2 linked regions of the Homo sapiens genome follow. The protein of the gene in region 2 interacts with the protein of the main gene of each other region in a biochemical or structural test. Each region holds a gene or a part of one and is shown on either strand. Other genes may lie near its edges.

Region 1 (7,344 bases), on a different chromosome or scaffold from region 2:
CTTTGCATCCCTTACCCACACCGCCGGCAGCTGATGCCAGAGGCTGGGAAAAGAGGCGGGTGTAGCTTTCTGCCTGGAAGGTGACTATCTCAAGTTCAGATATGACACTTGCCTCAGGAATTTCTCTTTCCCTATGGGACACGGCATTCCTGCAATCTGAATGTTAGTGAGGACAAAAGGTACGACTGTTCATTTCCTGTTTGGAAGCCCCAAATGGTTTCCCCTTTGATATAAAGCACACTAGGGCAGGGTGTAGTGGCTCATGCCTGTAATCCCAGCACTTTGGGAGGTCAAGGCAGGAGAATTGCTCGAGCCCAGGAGTTTGAGACCAGCCTGGGCAACACAGGGGGACTCAATCTTTACAAAAATCACAAAAATTAGCTGGGCACAGTGGTGTGTACCTGTGGTCCCAGCTACTCAGGAGGCTGAGGTGGGAGGATTGATTAATCTGGGAGGTTGATGCTGCAGGGAGCCGTGGTTGTGCCACTGCACTCTAGCCTGGGTGACAGAGCGAGACTCTGTCACACGCACAAAAAAAGAAAGCAGTCTGGTCTCTTTAGCATCATTTTAGCATAGTTCCCTCTGGAAAGCCAGGTGGGAATGTGGATGAGTCAGTGTGAGCCCTCGCAACGGCTGGAAAATGAATTCTGAGCCTGTCCATCCAAGCCCGTGTGCAGTTTGGCCTAATTGGTACTTTGGTTCTCTTCATAAGGTCCATTGCCATCAAATGCGATGGGGTTTCAAATGGGGCTAGTGGTTAATAATCAAAGACTGTAAAATGTAAAACCCAGAAGATACTGCTTTTCACCTCTCAGACTGGCAAAAAAAAATTGTGACTATTAATACCCAGCGTTGATGGAAATGTGGGGAAAGGCACGAGGCTGCTGGGCATAGGAATTAGTGCTGTGATTTTGGGGGGCAATTCGGACCAGCAGTTCTGCCTGTTTTTAGTTCTTTTGTTGTTGTTGTTTTAAGTTCCTTTGACCCAGCAGTTCTGCTTTTAGGAATTTACCCCCAAGAAATAACCAGAGATACAAGCAAAGAGGTGTTATTTATAGTAGTAAAACATTATAAACAAATGTCATATTTAACCATAGGAAATGGTTTAAATACATGATAGGAAATGTTAATGGTGAATTTCTCAACGAAAAAAATGCAGGTGTAATCAGTGGGCACAGAAGATTATAATTTTGTTTAATAAATATATACATAGATAACAAAAATGGTTTGAAGGGTATATACTAAAATGTGAACTGATTATCTCTGGGTAATAGAATTGTAGGTAGTTTTTATTTCCTTTTCTGTGCTTTTCTGAAAAATTTTCCAACATTTTTCAACATGGAATATGTTTTACTTTGATAATCAGTGAAAATATTAAAAATAGTTTCTTTTAAAAATTCACACATCCGTTCAGGCCGAATTTGGGATTGTTTGGAGGATAGAGGCATCTAATGAAAGGTCCCTGCTGGGAATATGGAACAAAAAGAAGGTTCTCCCTCGTGGGTGGGATTTCCATCCAGGCGGATGATTCAATAGCTGCACCCACCTCCTTAAATTCCTGGATTTGGGTCTGTTCGAACATGGAGAACACGTTGGAGTTGGCGCCCCCGGCTCTCTTCTTTGCTTTCTTAGGTGCCTGGGGGAAAAAAGCATCGATTAAAAGAGTGAGAGGCTGGGAGTCAAAAAACTAGGTCAGGCCCCTACTCTGGGTGTGTTCATCTCTGTTGCAGGGCTCAGCTGCCCATCTGTGAAATGTGGGTACAGCATCCACACTCAGGTCTCCAAACGGTGATGCTGGAGGGAGCAAAGGACATGACATGAAGTTTCTCCAGAGCCCTCTGGTACCAGTGGATCATAAGCGTTTGTGCATCTTGCAGTGGCTCCTTCACCAACTAGGAGAAGCCACAGGTGTGTCCCTGGGGATGGAGGCCACACCTTCAGATCGCCCCTGCAGGATCCAGCCACTTTTGTTCTGATGCATTTCACAAAAAGCTCAGTAATGCACAGAAGGAGAATTGATTGGAGGGAAAGAAAAAGTCAGGCTCACTAAGCCATGATGAATGCCAAGATGAAATGACAGTTCTTCAAGGTGTTAAAACCCAACTGCGCCCCACACCCCACAATTTTCCCTTGCTCCAAATGGCAGCAAAACCTCCTCTCTGAATGCTCCGTCCTTGCACCACATCAATAGGGCAGAGAAGAGCGAGTTGACCTTTCTTCCCCACCCCACTTCTCTCTGACTTTCAATAACAGCAAATGATTCGGTACTCTACATATGTATTATTTAATTCTCATAACCACTCTGTCAAGTGGATACTATTATTATCATCCCCATTTTACAGGAGAGGCAACTGAGGCTCAGAGAGGTTGGGTCACTTGCCCAAGATCACACAGCCACACACACAGAAGGCAGAGCCGGAGTTGAACTTGGGCGTTGAACTTGGGGAGTTGAACTTGGGCATTCTGACTCCAGAGTTCCTGCCTCTAACCACTCTCCCTCCTGTGCTGACCCTGATTTGGGGACTGCCCACTTCAGGAGGGGGACACCTAACCCAACAGCACAGAAAGAAAGGTTTTAAATTTGCAAGTTCAAAAGGTGAAAACAAAAACATTCTTTTTCCCAGCTGCCTGAACAAGAGAAAAGAATTACAATTTGATCCTTAAAAGCATTCAATCCCATTTTGCAAGTCCTGGGAGTTATTGATTCCTCGAGAGGTCAGTAGACAAGCCATAAAAAAGCCAACTCTCTTATTTTGTGTTTGTGAGTCCCCGAGAGCTGCTGTTATTTGTGGCCTATCGGGGCATTGATTGGGGTTCCTCTGTGCCCGCGCAGTCAATGGGGCTTTTTCCACAAGGGGCTGGAGGCTTTGAGGGCCGCCTTCCTCCCCCTCCGCCGTGGTCCCTCGCTTGTAGTGGCTTCCTCTCCTCGCCCACCCGGCATCATCACCTCCTGGAGCCCTTGTACTCACCATGGTGGAAAGGACCCAGCACTGCCTCCCGAGAAGAATTCCACACTCCGCCCAGCTCTCTGCAGCCCAGGAACAATAAATACTTCCTCCCCATGTTTAAAAATAACCCCATGACCGCTTTTGGCAGTCATAGGTGAGGCGGGCACCACCTAAGGCCCCCCCACCCCATGCCGTTCTTCTGAAGTAAGGGTGGCTCACTCGCCACTGGGTGACACGTGAGCCCCCAAAAAGGCATTCAAGGTTAAAGAGGCAGTAGCTGGGTCATGGTCACGGGGAGAGATGCTGCGCGCTCTCTGCGGTGCTTGGGCCGGGGACACTTGTGCTTGTCAATTTTGAGAAAAAAAATGGCAGGGAGAGGAGACTGCTAAAATGCTCTGTTTTATCAGCCTGGATCTGGCCTCAGGGTCTTTGCACCTGTGTGCCCTCTACCTGGAATGTCTTTCTGTCAGTCATCGCACGGCTCCTTCCTTCACCTCCTTCACTGCATCTTTGCTCATATGTCATCTCCTGAGTGAAGCCTCCCCGACCACCATCTTTAAAATAACCATGAAGGCTGGCACTGTGGCTCATGCCTGAAATCCCAGCACGGCGGGAGGCCGAGGCGGGAAGATTGCTTGAGCCTAGGAGTTTGCGACCAGCCTGGGTGACATAGGGAGATGCCTGTCTCTACGCAAAAGAAAAAAAAATAGCTGTGCGTGGTGGTGCATGCCTATAGTCTCAGCTATTCAGGAGGCTGGGACAGGAGGATCACTTGGGCCCGGGAGGTTGAGGCTGTGGTGAGCCACGATCACACCACTGCACTCCAGCCTGGGTGACAGAGCAAGACCCTGTCTCAAAACAAACAAATAACACAGCCACGCACCTCCTGCGCTCCGATCTCCCTTCTTTGTTTCTCTGCACAGCGTGAGGCAGTCCCGAACACTGCCCACAGTGCACTGACTCATTTTCTTCAGCATCTGTGGAGCGTCAGCTCAGAGGGCAGGGATCACTTTAGTTTCCCTCACCACTGACTGTCTCCCCAGCTCCCAGCTCATGATGCACACAGCAGCAGCTCAAAAATAAATATTTGTTGACTGAAGAAATGACAAATCTCATTGACTGAGCACTGGCACGTGCCGGACACTATGTGCTCATGGCTCCCACACATAATTTTCCAGCCACCCTAGAGGGTGGGGACCACCTCATCATCCATGCCCCCATTTTACAGATGCGGAAACAAAAGCTCAGAGAGGCGAAGTGAGCTGCCCAGGGTCACACAGTGATGGAGCTAGGCGTGGACCCCTCTGGAGGCCCCTTTGTCTCCAGAGTCCAGGCTCTTTAAGAGCCTTGAAAACAGCAGCTGCTCTCAGAATGCAAGGTGTCATTATATAATACTTTTACTGAAGACAGCTTTCCTGCTGGGTGCAGTGGCTTATACCTGAAATGCCAGCACTTTGAGAGGCTGAGGCGGGTGGATCACTTGAGTCAGGAGTTCAAGACGACCTTGGCCAACATGATGAAACTTGTCGCTACTAAAAATACAAAAATTAGCCAGGCGTTGTGGCGCGGGCCTGTAGTCCCAGCTACTCAGGAGACTGAGGCAGGAGAATCGCTTGAGGCCGAGAGGCAGAGGTTGCAGTGAGCCGAGATAGCGCCATTGCACTCCAGCCTGGGCGACAGAGTGAGACTCTGACTCAAAAAAAAAAAAAAAAAAAAAAAGGACGGGCATGTTGGCTCACACCTAGCACTTTGGGAGGCCGAGGCGGGTAGATCACCTGAGGTCAGGAGTTCAAGACCAGTCTGGCCAACATGACAGAACCCCATCTCTACTAAAAATACAAAAATTAGCTGGGCGTTGTGGCACATGCCTGTACTCCCAGCTACTTGGGAGGCTAAGGCAGGAGGATTGCTTGAACCCAGGAGGCGGAGGTTGCAGTGAGCCGAGATCGTGCCATTGCACTCCAGCCTGGGCGACAGAGCAAGACTCCATCTCAAAAACAAAGACCAAAAAAACCCCAAACTAAACCAAAACAACAAAAGATGGCCATCTTCCTGTGCCCTTAAAGACAGCCTTGGGATTCAGGGAGCAAGAACTCGGGGCTTGGAATCATTGTGGTTATTTAGTGTCCGTGGGTGGCAGGCCTGAGTGCCAGAGGCCACACCTCTAAGAAGGAGAATGTCCCTCTGCCCTCCCAGTAGTGTGGGTGCGGGGCTGATGGCTGAACCAGCATTCATTCCCCTTCATCGAGCCCAGCGCAAAGCAACAAATTCCCTTCCCTTGAGGTGCGTAAGTGCGAGGGGAAGATGGACAAGGAGAAAGTAAACAAATGCACAACCCAGACAGTTGCAGGCAGTGACGGATCTCATGCAGGGATGAGACAGAGGCATGGCAGTGGCCAGGTGACAGCCTCAGACAGGGGCGCAGGTGGGCTCCTCCAAGCAGAGTCTGCAAAGGGGGCTCCAGGCAGTGGGGACAGCACATACCTCAAGGCAGGGAGAATTTGGAGGCTTTGAGGAACAGAAGGCCCCCTGGGGCTGGAGTTTTCCAGAGCTTAAAAAAAGAAATCACTTTTCTTATTAGGTTTTCCAGAGGGTAAAAGGAGGTGAGACCTGGCAAATGGTAGCTATCACTCACTCCCCTTCTCAGGTGGAAAAATAATCTCAATTTGGGGGCACACAAACCCAAGGACCATTGATGGCTGTGACAAAAAAAGGTGTGGGTTTTTTTCTTCTCTGCAGTCCCACATGGGTTAGAGTTACCCAGGACACTCTTCTGACAGATCTTTAATAACAAAAGATGTGTTCATGTGTGTGTGTAGGCACATGCATGCACAGACAAAAACACGTCTGCACATGCATAGAGGCACACAGACACGTGCATGTACACGCATCCACATATGTGCAGTGCACACATCAAGAGGAGCTTTTCTGTCCAAGGTTCTCTGACAACACCAGAATAAATGTTTCCCTAGCTAATAGGCACACCATAGATTTTCGTTAAAACCCTGTGTGAGCAGTCAGTAGCTCCAACTGGCCAAGTGAAAAGGTTGTTGCAGCCACAGAAGATGTGGAGAGTGTATGATGGGGGGTGGGAAGCCCCGGGGTGGGGATTAGGATGGGCTGGGCCCCCAGAGTCGAGTGGGGGTGTGTGTCCCTGAGGGACACCTGTACAGCCAGGCCTCCAGAAGGGGTACTAGAGGAACCATTCTGGCTGGATAGCAAGAGGGGTTGTCAAATAGGGCACTCACCCTCTCGGGCCTGTTTCCTCACCTGGAAAAGGGAGATCACACACCTCCATAAGGCTGCTGGGAGGATTAAGTGAGATTGTGTCTAGGGATTCTGGGAAATGGCGGCCTGAATGGGGCATGGAACCACGTGGCTGCTGGGACGTGGAGCACGTGGGGTGTGGACTAGGCCTTGGGGTCTGTTGAGAGAGCCAGAGATCCAAAGTCTCTCTCATCAATGGGTTGTGTTGCCCCAGGGAGCCCCCAAGACCAGGGACAAGGCCCTGGGATTGGAGAATCCAGGGAGGACTTGGTTCTTTGTAGACTTCAGGGGTTCCTTTCAGCATCAGCCTCAAGACTGCGGGGGCTGGGGAGGGAGCGAGTGGGCGGCTGGGGCTGTTGTGCCCTGCCCTCAAGGCTGGGTGGCGGAGGCCTCTTGCTGAGAAGCACATGCCCACAGGACCTGAGACCCCTGCCTTTTTGCTACCTGTGGGATTCCTACAGCTAATAAGTTTCCAGCAGCTAGACCTGAGTCCCACTGAATAGAAGAGAAAAATAACTGCTCACTTGAGGCTGTCAGAAGCCAGAGAGAAGCACAGTGGGCCGATCCATCAGAATAGCAACTTCTAGAATATCAGAAACCCAAGTGTATTTGTTTCTTATTGCTGCTATAAAAATATTACCGATGTGGTGGCTTAAAACAGCACTTCTTTTTCTTTTGAGACAGGGTCTCACCCTGTTGCCCAGACTGGAGTGCAATGACACAATCATAGCTCACTGCAGCTTCGAACTCCTAGGCTCAAGTGATCCTCCTCTTTTGGCCTCCCAAGTAGCTGGGACTATAGTCACGCACCATCACGCTCGGCTAATTAAAACAATTTTTTTAGTAGAGACGGGGTCACATTATGTTGCCCAGGCTGGTCTTGAACTCCTGAGCTCAAGCCATCCTCCTGCCTCAGCCTGCCAAGATGCTGGGATTACAGGCTCAAGCCACCACACCTGGCAACGTATTTATTATCTTGTAGTCACAAATAGGACTGTGTTCCTTCTGAAGCCTCCTGGGGAGAACCCGATTTTTGCCTTTTCTACCTCGGAGGATTCAGAGGTTGGAGTGATGAGGACCACGAAGCAGGGAATGAGGCACCGACACTCCTTGTGGACCACGAGGTCCC
Region 2 (7,022 bases):
CTGGGCATGGTTGGCTTTGTGATCTGGGGGCTGGTGTGTTCCATCTGTGCATGTCTTTCAAGCTGCACGCTTTCTTAATAAATTTTCATAAGTTTAACAAAAAATAAAACAAGGATGCGAAGCCTGCTTGGATTGTTAAGCCTCGGGAAATTATCCAGCCATGAGCCCTGGCCCAGATGCTTCTAGAAGCCTGGAGGGAACTGAGAACTTTCCAAGTAGAGGTGGCAGAGGCAAGGCCCTGAAGTGGGAGCGCACTGCTGCTCGTCCCTAGCTGCAAAGGAGGTATCCCGGTCGGAATCAGTGCTGGGTGCACTGCAGGGCCGGGAAGTCCATGCCCACATTGTGGCTCAGTGCAGTGAAAGCCAACCTCACCCTCTCCGCAGTGTTCAGCCTGCCAGCAGGTGGCCAGCTGGTCCTCCTGGGATATGGCACGGACCCAGCAGCTCCATTCAAAATCATAATGGGGGAACCAAGGGCCCCCTATATCCAGGTCCGTTGGGAGCCGGGGCATTGACTTCCACTCCAGGAATCTCCAGGAACCCTGAGGTCCTCCCTGAGCCAGGGCCAGGCTGGGCACACCCTGAGTGCCCACAGGGTACGTGTCTTCCCGGACAGCCCCACCAGGACAGGGCGTGGAAAAACGAGATGCCCATGGCGGGGAAGCTGAGCAAATGGGCCGCTGGAACTGGGCTGGTGGGCCTGGAGGGGCCTGCCTATACCCCTTGCAGAGGGTCTTCCCACCACGTGAAGCCGGCACAGGCCTGGGTGCCAAGGACCCTTGCTCGCGTTTGGCTGAAAGGAAAACAGACGTGGTCAGCATCTCCAGTGAGCCCATGCAGGCCTTTCCGGGCTGGGCCCCACCTGCCTGCATCTCTGGAGTCCTTGGGGTCTCTGTGTGGCCCCTGTGGTCTGACACTGACGACACGCCTGTAGTCTGCTGATCCCAGAGGGAGGGGTGTGTGCTGCCTGGCATGGGGAAGCCGTTGGGGCATGGTGGGTGGCTCCTGGGACTGCCCCCAGGGTTCAGACTGGCTGGGGGCTTCCTGCCACACACCTTCGTCCCAGGGCTGTTGGGCCTGGGATATGGCCCCCCATCAGAACTCAAGTGGGAGGGGCCTTGGATGTCACCCAGCTCCTTGCCACCTCACATGGGGACCTGTCTCCGCAGTGGGTGACTGGGCCCGGACGTGGGTCACCCTCTGCCCCCCTGGGCTGCCCAGTCCATGCCAGGACTGACCGTTCCCACATCTGGCTGAATTCTTGGCTCTGGCTCTGGGCCCGGGGTCCCGCCTGTGCCCTCTCCCTGAATGCCCTGTGGGTCAGGGACACCCGATTCCCTTGTCTCCCTTGCTCAAGGCTTGTTGTCCTGGCAACCTTGGAGGAGCGTGCAGGAGTGAGGGGCCTCTGCTGCTCTCTGAGGCTGTGGGTGCTTGCAGGGAGGGGCGGGGTCTCCCACAAATGGGTCTGGCTCATCTAGTAACTTTGAGGGCCCTGTGAGGGAGAGAGCGAGACACCGTGGAAAGTGGGAGGGGGCTTGTTGGAGGGTCTTGCCCACATCCCTCTCCTGCGTGCACAACACATCCAGTATACACGCACTGAGTGCCTGCCCTGAGGACCGGTGGGCCTCCTGTACTTTCTTAGAGTCCAGGAGGAAGAGGAGGAAGAAAAGGTGAAGAGGAAGGCCCAGGTAGTAGGGTTGCTGGTCCGGGGCACCCGCCCACTATTGACTGCCCCAGAGGCTGACATGGGAGGGGACATGGCACTGGAGCCCACCTGGGGGTGGCAGGTCCCCTTGCTTCCTTGTTAGTTTCTTCGTAGAGGCCCTAAGATGCTTGAGCACGGTGTCATCGTTCATGGCCCAGGTATCGAAGAATTGGTTCCGCAGACGTGCCCACAGGCCACACCTGGATGTCTTCATGAGGCGCTCTAGGGACAGGGTGGATATCAGGCCAGGAGAGTTCCCTGGGAATGGTCACAGCTCATACCCTGTGGCCACTTCAGTCTCCCACTGGGCGGTGCCGAATCCTTTTGTGGCCACCCCAGGCATCCAGATGTACACAGGAGACTGTGGCTGGGGGGTGATCTGGACAGGGAAGTGCTCACCACACTCTCGACTTTCATCTGGGTCATGTGGGGGATGGGCTCGGTGTCACAGTGCCCTGCCCAGCCCACCTGGCCAGACCTCCCTCTGGGCCAGAACAGAGGATCATGAGGACAGTGTGAGGAAGCTGCCCTTGGGCCAGTCGGGGTCTGACTGCAGGGCTCCCCAGGCCCCACTGGGCACACGTAGACTTACTCTGCTGAACCTTAAGAGCAATGCTGGTTATTGGCATCAACACCTGTTCTCCTTCCACCAAATACACGTCCCACAGGCGCAGGGTGAGCCCGAGAGAGATCTGTGGGGACAGCAGGTATGAGAGAACCTGGCCCTTCCAGGCTGGGGCTGGTGGCTCGAGCTGCGCACACTGGGGCTTCAGTCTCCAGAGTCAGTGACCTTCCCCATGAGGGTCACCTGAGCCCTCCAGAATGCTGAGTCAGAAAAGGTCTTGCAACTTCTCATGGGGGGGTACTCATTTGAGTGGGTATGTGGCTCCTGGAGAGAGGGGCTTGCCCAGGGCTTGAGGCTTCCCTGAGCCCTCTCAAGTTGGGTCCTGACCCAGTCTGCCCATGAGGCTGGACCTGAGTCCCAGCCATTGCCCTGGGATGACCCCTCTTGGGCAGAGGGTTTTGCTTGTGTGTCCTTCGGGGACCCGCCTGAGCCTCCTGTGGGCTGGGAGTGAGCCAGACCCCCGGGCTGGGGAAGCACGGCACTGCAGGGCAAGGAGGGTCCCTGAGCCAGGGTCTCCCTATGCCTCCTTACCCCGTCAATCAGGTTCCGGAGAAGGCAGCCTAACGAGGCACACTGCCCGCATAGACCTTCCTTGTCCTGATGGGATGAACAGAGGTGCTCAGGGCCCCCTGGGCTGCCCTAAAAACCTCCATCTTCCAGGGCCTCTGAAGACCTTTCCCCTAGTGCAGAACACTGGGCGGTGTCCAGAACTCCCCACAACACTGTCCCCTTCCCACACTCCCGGTGGACACACTGCCCTTTGCCCTGCTCTGCAGGAGCTGGGCCCCCATCCCTGTGCCTCTGTCTCCTCCAGGGCATGAAAGGAAACCAACTCCCAGCCCATGGAGAACCCGACGTCCCAGGTCAGGCCCTAGCTGGGACTCCGCCAGTCACCAGTCCCACAAGGGACTCCAGTCCCCCTGCTCCTACAGCCCCACAGGAGGCAGGGCCTCTGAGAAGAGCCGAGGGGACCATAAACTCACCTGATGCCACATGGTCTTGGGTTGTGACTTGGGTACCACATGCTCCTGTTGGTCTTGGAGCCCCTGGACTGTCCCACCATTTGGGCTGTGGAATCCTGAGAAGCCCCCAGCCCATCATGAAATCAGAGCCTTCCCCCAAGGTGTGGAGCCATCAGCTGAAAGAGCTGGGCAGCTGCAGAGGCCCCCAAACCCCAAGGCCTCCCGCCCTCCCATCTGGTGACCCTACCATGCGGCCTTTGCCCTGGGGAGGTGGGACAGGAACATCCCCTGGAGCCTGGCTGGAGGTTCCCCTGGAAGCCTCCTGGGCCAGGGTGCAAAAGGGCAAGCCTGACTTTGAGGCCACAACAGAGCGGCCAGAACAGGGTGGGTGCTGAGCTTCCTGGTCATCTCCTGGAAGTGGGGTCGGGCCAGGGGACACGGGATGGTGAGATGCTGCCACCTGGGCTTGGTCAGCCCATTTGTGGGCACCAAGGGCAGCAGGAGCCCAGGCAGCTGGAGGGCAGGAGGACCCTCAGGGAGGGGAGAGTCAGCTGAACAGAATCAGAGCCGGAGGATGTGGCTCCAGGACACAGAGGGTGGCCATGGGGAGGATGAGATGCCCTCTGCTGATGGGGATGAAAGGCATCTGACTTGGGTTGTGGGGGTCAGCTGCGGACTCCTGTGGGACCCTCAGCAGAGACGTCCTAAATGCTCCCAACAAGCTGGCAACACAAGGAGTGTGCCTTGGCTGAAAGCCGAGATCACCTGGCCACAGTGGCTTTCCCGGGTCTGGCTGCGTGAGGCCCCACGGGCAGCTGTTCACCTACCTGGCAGGGAGTGCCTCTCACTGGCCAGCAGCTGCACCAGTGCCCAGAATGCGTCCTCCTCAGGCAGATAAAGGAGGAACAAGGCGGTGATGTGGCTCAGGTCCCTGCAGTAGCCCACCTCCTGCAAGAGCCAGAGTCACCATGGAAGGACATCACCTGGGAGGGCTGAGGTCACCTGGGAGGACTCATGTCATTGGAGAGGGCAGAGGTGACTGGGGAGGCTTCCTCTGAAGAAGAGGCTTCCTCAGGATGCAAATTCATTTCATGACAAGAGCAAAGTCCATCAGGCACTTCAGCACCTTGTCCAAAATGTCTCCTGAGAGCACCGTCCTGCGTGTGACACTGCCAAGCTCCTTTGCTTTGGAGCAGCCCCAGGAGGAGGGCGTCATTTCTTGTTCTGAGAAGTGGTGGTCAGGCCCAGGTGACACCAGGAGTCCAGGCCCCAAGTCCTTTGTGTCTCAGCTTGACCCCTTGAGACCACCCCCTTGCTTGGAGGTTTATGCCAGCGGTGACCTAGAATCCTACCTCCTATATCCTGGTGAGTCACAAATACCAACTTTAAAAGAAGCAACGACACCCCCACCAGACACCCACTCCTGTGAATATGGAAATACAGCCTGGGAACCTCACTGCCGGGAATACTCACCGGGTTATACTCCGAATAGGCCAGGAGGATGTAGAATAGTTCCCTCTGCCTAGGAAACACAGAAAGGGGGCTATGGTTTGGTTTGTGCAGATGCTGTTAGTTTCACTTTGTCTACAAATCCTAACAAATCCCATTTCAGGTTCAGATGATTCACCAGATAAGCAGTGAGCTCTTCAGGGCCTGAGACTGTTGAAGAAATGTTTCAGTAAAATCCACATCTGTGACATGCAAATAGCCCAGTTCTACAGTGAGTTGACCGATCCTTTTCACGCTGAATGATTTTTTTTTTCTTTTGCACACACACCAGTTCAGTCTTTGGGTGCACAGTTCCTCCATGGTTCCAAACCAATGTGCAGTCTCCCGGCCACCGCTCCAGCCCCTCCTGGAGCGACTCCATCATCTTCCAAATCTCCAGGGTTTCCCCTATGCACCCAGCCTCTCCCCGATCCGTCAGCCCCTGGCCACCCAGACTGCTGCTCAGTCCCTATGGTTTGGCCTTTTCCAGAATGGCCTAGGAATGGGAATCCTACTATGGTAGCTTATTGGGTCTGGCTTCTTTCCCTTAGCAAAATGCATCTAGGATCCACCCACGTTCGTGCAGGCATCACTGGCTCGTTCCCTTTTCTCACTGGGTCTTCCGTTTGAAGGGAGGACCAGCCTGTCTCTCCCCATTCCCGTGTTGAAGGCCATCCCCGAAGGCTCCATGTGTGAGTGATGAGGAATCAAGCAGTGAACCTGGCATGCAGGTTTCATGTGGATGTCAGTTTTCAAATCAGTGGGTTCAATATCTGTGACACCATGGGGATGTGTGGTTCAAGTCCACTGAGCTTTGTGAGCCACTGCCCAACTGGCTGCCAATGTGGCTGTGCCATGTCATGTTCCCAGCAGACCTGGATGACAGTTTCCAGGACCCCTAATTCTCCCAGCATTTGGTGCTGTGTTGCCTGGGGAGGCTCATGGGCCCTCCATCCTGCCACCCTCCTGTGGGTCCTACCATGGGTCTCCGTGGGTCAGGGAGAGCACCTTTCACCATTGCGTGTGATTTTCTTTGCTGTTTTCTGTCTCCTCAGGATCCTCCTGGGTTCTGGCCCCACATGTTCCAGCCTGGCCCAGGGCTTGGAACCAGGGAGGTGCTCGGTTCATGGTGCCGGCTGCTCCCTGGGCCAGGAGAGCTCTTGGCAGCTCTGTCATCCCTCCTGGGTGACCCTGGCTTCTGCTCCGGGGAAGTCCCCATCCCTCTCGTTCACCCCATCTCTGCTGGGACTGTGTGGCTCCCGTAGGCTTACTTGGCTCCATATCGATCCCTAAAGAAGACATGGTTCCGGAGAGTCGTCCTCACGTCCAGGTCGATGTGGTGGATGTGTTCAGATGACCTCTTGCCCCTCTCCTTCATGATCTGTAGGGCAGGGCCAAGAGGAGGAAGCAGCCTCAGAACAGATGGAAGACTCCCTGCCCCAAATGGCAGTCAGCCCACAGTCAGCACTTCGGGAAGGAAGGAAAGAAGGAAGGTTTCCTTCTGCAGAAAGCTGCTTTTTGGCTTGCTACTGAGGCCAGGGAGGGTCACCACAGCCGAGTTTGTCTGTGGTGACTGTGTCACCGTCCATGCCCAGGATGTGCATCTAACCATCCCCTCCCACCCCCCCACCCCAGGGTGGGCTTGACGTTCCCTCCAGCTGGAGACCTGGGCCCCTGACACGGCCTGTCCTGTTTGTTGTGCTCTGGCTGAGCATACCTGGTATCTTCCGGGGTTTTTCAACTTGATTTCCTGAATGTTCAGGAGGACTGACCACACCGGGCCCCGGATGTTCATGGGAATTCCCTTGTACACTCGATCTATGAGCTGTGGGCAGAAAAGAATCTGGTGTCACAGGCCATGGGGTGACCCCAGTGAGGACCAGAGCCTGGGGATTCTGGAAATTGTCAGTTTTGGCCCCATGATTCCTCAGTAGAGGCGAGATCAAGCTGGGACAGGGTCTCCCTTCCCAGGACTGAAAGAGTGGATGGACACTCAGAGTCTAAACTCTGATCCGAACCTTTTCCTTCCTTCGGGTCACCAGGGCATCCCTAGCCTTGAGCTCTGGGTGGTCCCAGCCCTAGATTCAGATTCCCTCCCAGCAAGGTGACACTTGCACGAATAGGCAGGCAATCTGGTGACCAGGCCTGCAGTCCTCTGGGCGAGGACAGTGTGCCACCCGCCCTCTGAGAGGCTGACGGTGCCAGGCCACAGCCATGGGTGCCTGTCCCCTGTTTCTGCAGAG

Evidence for each region. The genes of interacting proteins can lie anywhere in the genome.
Region 1: the proteins of USP6 (region 2) and MYL2 form a complex in vitro, tested with the Homo sapiens proteins (one study listed by BioGRID and IntAct).

What each region holds. Positions count from the first base shown.
Region 1 is NC_000012.12:110,917,558-110,924,901, forward strand, and holds the start of MYL2 (myosin regulatory light chain 2, ventricular/cardiac muscle isoform), read right to left. Parts: upstream 3,023-7,344; 5' UTR 2,973-3,022; coding exon 2,970-2,972; intron 1,637-2,969; coding exon 1,547-1,636; intron 1-1,546. UniProt on the Homo sapiens protein: Contractile protein that plays a role in heart development and function.
Region 2 is NC_000017.11:5,133,025-5,140,046, reverse strand, and holds part of USP6 (ubiquitin carboxyl-terminal hydrolase 6), read right to left. Parts: intron 6,605-7,022; coding exon 6,497-6,604; intron 6,161-6,496; coding exon 6,051-6,160; intron 4,814-6,050; coding exon 4,765-4,813; intron 4,240-4,764; coding exon 4,119-4,239; intron 3,408-4,118; coding exon 3,313-3,407; intron 2,927-3,312; coding exon 2,861-2,926; intron 2,397-2,860; coding exon 2,297-2,396; intron 1,927-2,296; coding exon 1,774-1,926; intron 793-1,773; coding exon 373-792; intron 1-372. UniProt on the Homo sapiens protein: Deubiquitinase with an ATP-independent isopeptidase activity, cleaving at the C-terminus of the ubiquitin moiety. Catalyzes its own deubiquitination. In vitro, isoform 2, but not isoform 3, shows deubiquitinating activity.